Linked DNA regions of Homo sapiens. The protein of the gene in region 1 purifies or fractionates together with the protein of each later gene. This does not show direct contact. Each region holds a gene or a part of one and is shown in the gene's direction. Other genes may lie near its edges.

Region 1 (3,654 bases):
GAACCTTGGAGGGAGACAGGTCTGAAAGTTGCCTGTGCAACTTAGTTCTTTCTTTGTGAGAAGGAAATTTCCATTCATTTCCTTATCTGGGAAGTGGGGATTCTAATGTCTGCCTCCCAAGGTTTTTGTGAGAATTAAAGTAGAGAATGTAGGTAAAATGATAGCAAGTTTCCTGATAAGTAGTGGTAGGGATGAGTTAGTACCTTCCGTCCTGGAAACCACCTGTGGGCCCATCTTGAATGATCAGTGTTATGTTAAATTCATATATTCTTTTCCACACTTTGATTAGAATAGTTAAAAAGCCACAGTCTAAATATTCTTGGGTGATAGGATATTGCAAAATTTTCCAAGGGTCTAAAATAGTGGTCTGCAAACTATGGCCTCTGTGCCAAATCAGGCCTGCCACTCCATTTGTAAATAAAGTTTTATTGGAACACAGCTCTGTCTATCATTTGAATATTGTCTAGGGCTGCTTTTGCAGAGTTGAGTAGTTGTGACAGAGACTGTGCAGCATACAAAGCCTAAAATATTTTCTCTCTGGCTTATAATAGAAAAACATTGCCAACCTCTGGTCTGAGATGATTTGCTTGGTTCTTCAGGCATTCATTTCCTTAAGATACTCAGTATCAGGCCGGGTGCGGTGGCGGGCGCCTGTAATCCCAGCACTTTGGGAGGCCAAGGCGGGCAGATCACGAGGTCAGGAGATCGAGACCATCCTGGCTAACATGGTGAAACCCCGTCTCTACTAAAAATACAAAAAAATTAGCTGGGGTTGTGGTGGCAGGCCCCTGTAGTCCCAGCTACTCGGGAGGCTGAGGCAGGAGAATGGCATGAACCCGGGAGGCGGAGCTTACAGTGAGCCGAGATCGTGCCACTGCACTCCAGCCTGGGGTACAGAGCGAGACTCCGCCTCAAAAAAAAAAAAAAAAAAAAAAAAGATACTCAGTATCCTGGGGTTGTACATTGCCAACACCAATGGGAAATAAAACTTGCAGCCAATTCATTAAATAATTTGTACAATGCCCCAAACTGATTTGATTGAATTTCTTCCTTAAAAGTGATAGAACTGTGTATAATAAACTGAACTCCATTTGTTAGAAAGTGAACAAATTGGACAGTTGCTTTTTATTGTTGTTGTTTGTATTAGGGAACAATCTACATGCTAATGAAAGGCAGGCTTGACTGATTTTCTTTGGACTGGCTGATTGTCTTGGTGTCCTGTGGACTTGGCCTTGGAACAGGAAATAATTCGTATCAGATTATTATGTCATGGATATGCCTTTGCTTTCAGACAACTTGAACAGAGCAGAGATTTAGCAAACAGAAAAATTAAGGACTTAAAATTCTCATCAACATAGAACTCTGCTCTTCAGATGTACTCTAGGGTTCCACTAAAGAGCCAATATTGTTTGGGAGGCAGTTAAAGATAAGTAAAATGTGTACTATGCATATAATTTTTGGAAGCCTATCTCCTACATAAATTTAAGCACAACTTACAATGAGAGGTAATTTAGGTTTCTGGACAACCTCTAATATTTCTATTCTATGTTACAACCTTTGCTTATTTAATAAGCCTAGTGAGCACCTTTACTTCTTACCAAGTTGATTCCATTGATTCAGCAGTTCTTTTTTTGAGATAGAGTCTTGCTCTGTCACCCAGGCTGCAATGTAGTGGTGCAAGATCAGCTCACTGCAACCTCTGCCTCCAAATTCAAGTGATTCTCCTGCCTCAGCCTCCTGTGTAGCTGAGATTATAGGCACATGCCACAATGCCCAGCTAATTTTGCATTTTCATTGGAGATGGAGTTTCACTATGTTGGCCAGGCTGGTCTCGAACTCCTGACCTCGAGTGATCCACCTGCCTTGGCCTCCCAAAGTGCTGGGATTACAGGTGTGAACCACCACGCCTGGCCAATTAAGCAGTTCTTGCTGTTAAGGGCAAGTAGAATCCAAAAGAGAGACACAAATTCACGTGCACTGTCTGGAGGTGAAATAAAGGACAAACATCAACCAAATACACAGATTTAATTGGTAAAAAAGCAGATGATGTTCTTGATGGATATTTTACTTCCTGCCCCTTATATTTATTTACTAAAGAAAATGCCAGATTTGTCCCCAAAGTTACTGACTCAGAAGTTTTGAAAGCTCTCTCCCAATTCACACTTGGGATTCTGTTCTTTCATGAGGAACCAAAAAAAAAAAAAAAAAAAATCAAGTTTGCCTACAGCTGTTCATTAAATATGTGGACATTTAATTCATAAAGAAGTCTTATAAATATTTGCTTTTAACTTTCCCATTACAAAGTGTTTTTTCCCCCTTTGACATCTTTCTAAAGTAGTTTATCTTCCCACTTAATGAAGATGTCCACCTATTTCTTATTCTGAGCCAACCAAACCAAAGTTGGCTAATTGATTATGAACATTAACATAATTCTCACCTTTATGAAATGCTTAATAACACTCTAGTTTTCTCATTTTTGTAGAACTGCTTGACAACTAAGTGAGCCTACCTGGGATGGGGAGGCCTTCTCTGAAACCCTCTTGTCCCGCTTGTGTGATACTGGGGACAAGCACTTGTAGGCAGGAGCCAGGGGTTTTACTTTCCATTCTACAGATAATTAGATGAGAGACCTTAAGCAAGCCACCTAACCACTTTGGGTCTCAAATGTTCTAGTGCTGGAATGGAACTTGCCTTTTCCTGGCTAATTTTCCTGGAGATTGAACTTGATTGAGGTTCTTTGCCAGCTCTAATTGCTGAGTTTTCCTGAGTGTTTATACAAAAAATAAATTAAAGTTTAAAATCAGAAGTCCTTAATTTAATAGATGGGATTCTTCTATCTGCTTAGGGCAGTGTTTTTATACCTTGGCTACACACTGGAATGCTCTGAGGAGATTTAAGAAACACAGATGCCTGGATCTCAACCTAGAGCTTCTGATTAAATTGTCTTGGGCATTGAAGGAGAGCTGCAAATGGCTCCCAGGTGAGAAGGCTGAGAACTGCTGACCTGGAGGTTGAAATGGATGGCTTCTAATAAACCTTTGGGCATTGCTAAGAGCAGAAGAATGCTCAATCCTTTTAACAGTGATAAACAAACATCTCTGGGGAATGGAGAACTTATTTGGTGCTATGCAGTATACAAAATGTTCTGTTGGATCAGTTTGGATTACATTTGATTGCTGGTGAAGAGACCTGAAATAACGTAGATTTAAGTAAGACAGTGGTGTCCTTTCTCTCACATAAAAGAAGTCCACAGTAGGGTGTTCAGGATCTTATGGAGTCTCACAGTGCCAACATCATCCCAGGCTCCTTTTTCCTTTCTAATCTGCCATCCTTGGCATGTGGCTCTTGTCCTCAAGATTTTTTTCATAGTTGCCATTGTAACTCCAGCCATTACATCTGTGAGCATCACATCTTCGGACAAGCAAGAAGAAGAAAAAGGAATAGCAAAAGATCATGCCTCCTGATCGCTGCCCCTTCTCCCTCCCAACACACAACTTCTGCTGACATCTGATGCCATTTCTATCTACAAGGGAGAATAGCATAATTGTTTAGCTGGGCACATTGCCACCCTCCATAATGCAGGGGCTGTTAGAAAGGAAGGGAAGGTGGATGTTGAGTGTAACAACTGCCAGTCTTCACTATGCTTTGAGTGCA
Region 2 (3,654 bases), on another chromosome or scaffold:
AAGTCACTAGTTACAGAGAACAGGAATCTATGAACTCATTCCGTAAAACAAAGGAAAATTTATTTTTTCTTCTCTGCATGTTGAGTGCTGGGAGAATCTCCAGAGCACACTAGATAATATTATCAAGGCTTTTCCTGGGTCTGGGCCGTGCCTGTTGCTGCCTCTGGGACAAGTCGGCCTAATACAGGAAAGCTTATTTATCTTTCTTTTTAATTTTATTTTTCTTTAATTTCCCACCTCACTCACTTATAAGTGGGAGCTAAACCTTGGGTACTCAGACATAAAGATGGCAAAAGTAGAAGCTGGAGACTACTAGAGGAGGAGGGAGGGCGTGAGCTAAGGGTTGAAAAACCAACTTGGTATGACGATCAGTACCTGGGTGGTGGGATCATCCATATTGCAAACCTCAGCATCATGCAATATATCCAGGTCACCAGCCTGTACCTATACCCCCTGAATCTAAAATAAAAGTTGAAAAAAAAATTAATTGGAAGGAAGAGGGCTTAAATTTAATCTGCCACTTACACTTAGAGTCCAGTTTTTTTTTTTTTTTTTTAAAGAGACGGAGTCTCGCACTGTCGCCTGGGCTGGAGTGCAATGGCGCGATCTCGGCTCACTGCAACCTCTGCCTCCTGGGTTCAAGTGATTCTCCTGCCTCAGCCTCCCGAGTAGCTGGGATTACAGGTGCCTGCCACCACGCCCGGCTAATTTTTTGTATTTTTAGTAGAGATGGGGTTTCACTATGTTGGCCAGGCTGGTCTTGAACTCCTGACCTCATGATCCACCTGCCTCAGCCTCCCAAAGTGCTGATATTACAGGCGTGAGCCACTGCACCTGGCCCAGAGTCCAGTTTTCTTAAATGGGAAACTTAAACCAAAGTCTATTTTCCTACAAAGTCTTCGTTGGATTTTTTCATAATCTTTTGGATTTTCCATGTACCTTCTCACCTCACCCTAACATAGAAAAATCTTCTCTCTTATTCTGGTTATAAGGTCATCATCATCTTTTTCTTCTTTTTTCTTTTTTTTTTTGAGACAGGGTCTTGCTCAGGCTGGAATGCAGTAGCACAACCATGGCTCACTGCAGCCTGCCTGCCAGGCTCAAGTAATCCTCCCACCTCAGCCTCCCAAGTAGCTGGGACTGTAGGTACACACCACCAGGCCTGGCAAATTACATTTTTTTTTATAGAAAAGGGGTCTTGCCATGTTTCCTAGGCAGATCTCACCATGTTTCCTAGGCTGATCTCGCCATGTTTCCTAGGCTGATCTCCAACTTCTAGGCTCAAAGGAGCCTCCTGCCTCAGCCTCCCAAAGTGCTGGGATTATAGGTGTGAGCTACTACTGCACCTGAACCTTTTTTTTTGATAGAAAATGTGAAAAGTGCGTTAACATTTTGAAGCATGTATTTGCCCCCAATTTCAATGTGTATATATACTCATAAAATTAAAAGACAGTTTTACTTTAAGAAATGAAAAATTAAAAAATTAAACAGTTTTTTGTCCATTAGTTTTTTTGTTTGGTCCTCAAAGCTGTCTCCCTTGGTTGCTCTTAACTTGTTTTTGGGTTGCAAACCATTTTGAGAAGTCGATGAGAGCTGGCCTCCTGCCCAAAGGGATGTAGACAAAAATATGTAACATTTTGCATATCCTCCCCACCGAGACTGAGTCTTGCTGTGTCACCCAGGCTGGAGTGCAGTGGTGTGATCTCAGCTCACTGCAGTGTCCGCCTCCTGGGTTCTAGCAGTGCTCTTGCCTTAGCCACCTGAGTATCCGGGACTACAGATGCCCACCGCTAGGCCTGGTTAATTTTTGTGTTTTTAGTAGAGACGGGGTTTCACCATGTTGGCCGCGCTACTCTCGAACTCGTGATCTACCCACCTCAAAGTGCTGGGATTTCAGGCGTGAGCCACCATGCCCAGCACATTTTGCGTGTTAATTTTAGAATGATCGCAGACTCCCAAAGGTTCACTGATACTTGATTAGGAGCTTTTTTTTTGAGATGGAGTCTTGCTGTCGCCCAGGCTGGAGTGCAGTGGTGCTATCTCGGCTCACTGCAACCTCTGCCTCCCGTGTTCAAGCGATTCTCCTGCCTCAGCCTCCCGACTAGCTGGGATTACAGGCGTGCACCACCACACCTGGCTAATTTTTTTGATATTTTTAGTAGAGATGGGTTTCACCATGTTGGCCAAGCTGGTCTCGAACTCCTGACCTCAGGTGATCTGCCCGCTTCAGCCCCCCAAAGTGCTGGTGTATCTGGAGTTGGTTCCTTCTGGTGGGTTCTTGGTCTCGCTCACTTCAAGAATGAAGCCGCAGACCTTCGCAGTGAGTGTTACAGCTCTTAAATGTGACGCAGACCCAAAGAATGAGCAGCAGCAAGATTTATTGTGAAGTGTGAAAGAACAAACCTTCCACAGTGTGGAAGGGGACCCTAGTGGGTTGCCACTGCTGGGTAGGGTGGCCAGCTTTTATTCCCTTATTTGTCCCTGCCCATGTCCTGCTGATTGGTCCATTTTACAGAGTGCTGATTGGTCCATTTTATAGAGTGCTGATTGGTCCATTTTATAGAGTGCTGATTGGTCCATTTTACAAACCTCTAGCCACAGAGCACTGATTGGTGCGTTTTACAATCCTCTAGCTAGCTACAGAGCGCCGATTGGGGCGTTTTACAATCCTAGCTACAGAGAGCTGATTGGTGCATTTTACAATCCTCTTGTAAGAAAAGTTCTTCACGTCCCCCCCACCCCCGCCCCGACCCAGAAGTCCAGCTGGCCGTTGGATTGGCAGAGGATGAGAAAAATGGGGTCTGGTTTGCTGACACTGTGTCATTACACAAAGAATAGAATGACAGAGTATCCTGTGCTGTCCTCTTTCAGTTTTCGTGGTTATAAAGAGAAGGTATCTTCTAAGGCAGAAGTCATTTGTCTTCAATTAGCAATTTATTGGATTATGGACAGGATTCTATTCATAAGTTTGAAGTTGATTGGCTTAATCTGTGATCAGAAAAGGGTGATTTCGATTGGTTAAAGAAAAAAGAATCTAAATTGTATTTGGTGCCTGTTACATGGAAAGCACTATTCTAAGCATATTGCCTTTATAAAAGGGGATTCATTAACATTGCAAAATAAAGTAGTTATGTGATTTTTGCATTTTACGTGGCATCAAATGTTTCCTGAATTGCGTCTCTTTGTAATTCATTATACATCATCTTTTTTTTTTTTTTTTGAGACAGAATCTTGTTTAGTCTCCCAGGCTGGAGTGCAGTGGCGCGATCTCTGCTCACTGAAACCTCCGCCTCCCAGGTTCAAGTGATTCTTCTGCCTCAGCCTCCTGAGTAGCTGGGACTACAGGCGCATGCCACCATGCCCTGCTAATTTTTGTATTTTTAGTAGAGACGGGGTTTCACCATATTGGCCAGGTTGGTCTGGAACTCCTGACCTCATGATCCGCCTGCCTTGGCCTCCCAAAGTGCTGGGATTACAGGCGTTGAGCCACTGGGCCCAGCCACATCATCTTTTTATGGAGTCATTTTCCATATTTACTCTTCTGGTTATTTTTACCTTGTATATAACAGCAGTTGCAATGAGAACTTAGATAAAGGAAAGGGGCTTATAGCTAACAGCTTAGCTTCTTGTTAGTCAGTAGGGACTCTCCAGTAT
Region 3 (3,654 bases), on another chromosome or scaffold:
TTCCTAATTGAAAGTATCATAAGTAATCCATAAATTTGAAAAAAATGTTAACTACTCTGATAAAAAAGTTTTATAGTTTCCTACTTTTAAGCAAAATTCCATAGGGCCTGGTAATTGTAGTTTCAACATTACTTGCAGTTTCAGTTAGTAAATAAATATTAAGCCTAGTAAGTATAATTTAATATTGTCAAATAATTTGGAAAATACCATGGGTACTTAATTGATTTTACCAAATTTCCATGGAACAAACAAGGTTGGCTATTTTTTGGATTGATATTTTGAAATACTAGTACAGGAATATCATTGTTAGTTGAATTTTTAGCCTTAGAAAACAAATGGAGTTTAGATAGCTAAAGTATAATTTATTTGTGATTTAATAATGGTATGGAGTTAGGGCTATGATAATTAGTGAAAACACCCAAGAATGTTTTATACTTTTAAATTTTAAAAATTGAAATGACACTTGGAGTAACAATTGCCTTTTAGGTGATGTGGCAGTGAAAATGTTGAATGTGACAGCACCTACACCTCAGCAGTTACAAGCCTTCAAAAATGAAGTAGGAGTACTCAGGTGAGCTTGTGTGAATTACTCTTTTCCAGAGAAAGAAGTTATTTTTATTAGCTCCTGGTTCCCAGTGGTAGCAACTATTAGCTTTACAGATTTACTCAAAATGAATAAATTTGTAGAAACAGAGTATGTCTGAGTATATTTTTGTCTTTAACCACATTCTTTTAAGTAGTATGCAATGTTATATGGTATGGCTGATAGAATACTTAGTCCTAGACTGAATTAATGGAAGTATAGTATTCTGATAATATAAAGTAATAGTTCTACTTATGAAAAGAATACTCTCCAGTTTTAAGCTTATCAGAATACATTTAGAGGTGGTATTTAGTCCTGGGCTCTGGAATTTTAGAAACATTGACAAACTAGGATATGCCTAGTGAGGACCACCTAAATAGGGAAGATTCTAGAGGTGTAACGGGGGAAAATAATCAACAGAACTGAGGATATTTAGTTCACAGAAGGCTGTTATGTTCAAGAGAGTGCACAGTTATTCCAGAGTGCGGAAAAAAAAGTTATTCCAGAGAGCAGACCAGGGAAGCAAGCCAGAGGTGAAAGTTGTAAGAAAATGATTTTGTCTCAACACTTGGAAACTTTATAATACCAGAACCACTTAAATAAAGATATGAGAGTCAGCTACAACTGAGTGATGAACTTCCCATAGTTGAAGGTATTTAAGCAACCTCTAGTTGCCTGTCAGATATATTTAAAAAGATATCTCTGCATAAAGTAGGAGGTTAGACTTGGCAATTGCCAGTCTCTTCTAAATGTATCCTTTTGTTGCCTTTTTTAAAAAAAAAAAAGCTTTTTCTGACAACATTTTACCGACAGACTACTTTGGTTCTCTTTTGTAAGAATTGCTAAAGTTTGTCGACATTTAATGTTTACTGTCACATTTCTTTGTACAGGAAAACACGACATGTGAATATCCTACTCTTCATGGGCTATTCCACAAAGCCACAACTGGCTATTGTTACCCAGTGGTGTGAGGGCTCCAGCTTGTATCACCATCTCCATATCATTGAGACCAAATTTGAGATGATCAAACTTATAGATATTGCACGACAGACTGCACAGGGCATGGAGTAAGTTCCATTCGTTAAATGTCTTGTAAATTATTTTTGAAGACCATTGAGGATGTTTTAAAGGTTTTGGCTGCTATTCTTTTGGATTGCATTTTAAATTACTGTCCAGGAACATAAGGATGCTAACTAATGGCTGGTAAATAATATGATACTAAAAAATAAATGTCTCTGTCTAGTGCAGCCTTCAGAACATATATCAAGTATTTGATAATAAATACATGACTGCAAACTTAGGCTTAGCACTCAGTGATTGAGCTAAGCAAGAGAGGTTCAGAAGATAGAAACAGCAAAAACCTGCTAAAAAGTTGTTAGCAGTTGTGCAAGTAAACAGAATGGTTGTTAGTTACTTTTTCAAATCAGTTTCTCTGAGTGCCCGTATTTTTGGTTGCAAAATGGTCAGTTAATAAAGTTAAAGTGAAAAATCTGCATTCTGACCCTTTTTGAGGATTTCAGAGTGAGTTCCTATCTGTTGAATTTTGCTATGCAATTTAAGGAGTTATTTTATAAAGTTTACCATAAGCTAATATGGGGAACTGACTTTGAAGGATAAATTTTAAATTTTGCAACTCTTAAGTGCAAATGAATAGGTAAATTAAAAGGTAAAATTAAACAAATTTTGAAAGCACTTAGGTGAAAATTATAAACTCAGTAAAATATGAATTTGAAAGCTCTGTGAGAAGTTTAAAAATAGATATGATCTGAATTTTGTTTTTTACAAATTGCTTTCACTTACATAGATTATTATGTCATTTAATCTTTATAATGTTATGAAGGAGATCTTTTTTCTTTTTACAGATAAGGAAATTGAGGCTTTTAAGTTCCTTGTCTAAGGGCACACATTTAATAAGTGGCACCAAAGGTGTTTAACTCAGGATTTCTGACTCCCAATCCAGTATTCTTTCCCCATAACCACTATGCTACTTTTACATTACAAAATTAGAATAAAAGAGTAAAAGGGTATATATGTACTAACACCTACAACTCTAACTGAGTATTGCTCCTAGCAAGTAAGTATAGAGCCAAGACTCTAAACCAGATCTGGCTCTTAGATCTTCCAACTATACCACCTTCTCTTTCTCAAAACTAGGCAATATATCTATAATTTAGATTGTTTACAAGCCTATATTCGGCCAAAATACTTATTACAGCAAATTATTACCTTATTCAGTAACACCCCCACTTACCCCTAGACTTGAAACAATCTCAACGTTTCAGATAAGTTAGAATCTCTGAATCTGTTCGAATCTAAAGGCTTTTAAAGAATTAAAATCTTGGCCAGGCACAGTGGCTCACACTTGTAATCCCAGAACTATGGGAGGCCGAGGCAGGCGGATCACCTGAGGTCGGGAGTTCAAGACTAGCCTGACCAACATGGAGAAACCCCGTCTCTACTAAAAATACAAAATGAGCCAGGCACAAGCCTGTAATCCCAGCTACTTGGGAGGCTAAGGCAGAAGAATCACTTGAACCCGGGAGGCAGAGGTTGCAGTGGGCCAAGATCACACCATTGCACTCCAGCCTGGGCAACAAGAGCAAAATTCCGTCTCAAAAAAAAAAAAAAAGAATTAAAATCTTGTGAAGAGTAAACCATGGCAAAGATTGTGAACATTCAGTGAGAAACAAAGGCTTATTCTCTTCCCACACCACTGGTCTCTTTGCAATTTCTTCAGCAGGCCAAGCGTGTTCCTTCTTTAGGACCTTTATGTTTGTTATATTCTCTTTAGGATACACATGCCACAAATATCCTTGTGTCTCGGTTCATATGTCCCCTTTTAATAGAAATCCTTGCTCACCTTATATAACTAACATGTCCCCACGTCACTCTGTCACTCTCTATACCCATAGGCTTGATTTTCTTTATAACGCATAGCTCCATCTGACTTGTTTCTTGTCTTTTATCCCCACTAGAATGCAGGCTGTATGAGAGCAGGGGCTTTTTTTCATTATTTTATGCCTAATGCCTAGAATGGGACCTGGCATACTCAGTACATAACTGTTAAATGA

The links.
Region 2: the proteins of POU2AF1 (region 1) and ATE1 purify together in Homo sapiens (affinity purification with mass spectrometry; 3 studies listed by BioGRID and IntAct, with this or other methods). This does not show direct contact.
Region 3: the proteins of POU2AF1 (region 1) and BRAF purify together in Homo sapiens (pull-down; one large-scale study listed by IntAct). This does not show direct contact.

The regions. Positions count from the first base shown.
Region 1 is NC_000011.10:111,372,674-111,376,327, reverse strand, and holds part of POU2AF1 (POU domain class 2-associating factor 1), read left to right. Parts: intron 1-3,654. UniProt on the Homo sapiens protein: Transcriptional coactivator that specifically associates with either POU2F1/OCT1 or POU2F2/OCT2. It boosts the POU2F1/OCT1 mediated promoter activity and to a lesser extent, that of POU2F2/OCT2. It recognizes the POU domains of POU2F1/OCT1 and POU2F2/OCT2.
Region 2 is NC_000010.11:121,917,899-121,921,552, reverse strand, and holds part of ATE1 (arginyl-tRNA--protein transferase 1), read left to right. Parts: intron 1-3,654. UniProt on the Homo sapiens protein: Involved in the post-translational conjugation of arginine to the N-terminal aspartate or glutamate of a protein. This arginylation is required for degradation of the protein via the ubiquitin pathway. Does not arginylate cysteine residues.
Region 3 is NC_000007.14:140,774,908-140,778,561, reverse strand, and holds part of BRAF (serine/threonine-protein kinase B-raf), read left to right. Parts: intron 1-486; coding exon 487-571; intron 572-1,473; coding exon 1,474-1,650; intron 1,651-3,654. UniProt on the Homo sapiens protein: Protein kinase involved in the transduction of mitogenic signals from the cell membrane to the nucleus. Phosphorylates MAP2K1, and thereby activates the MAP kinase signal transduction pathway. Phosphorylates PFKFB2.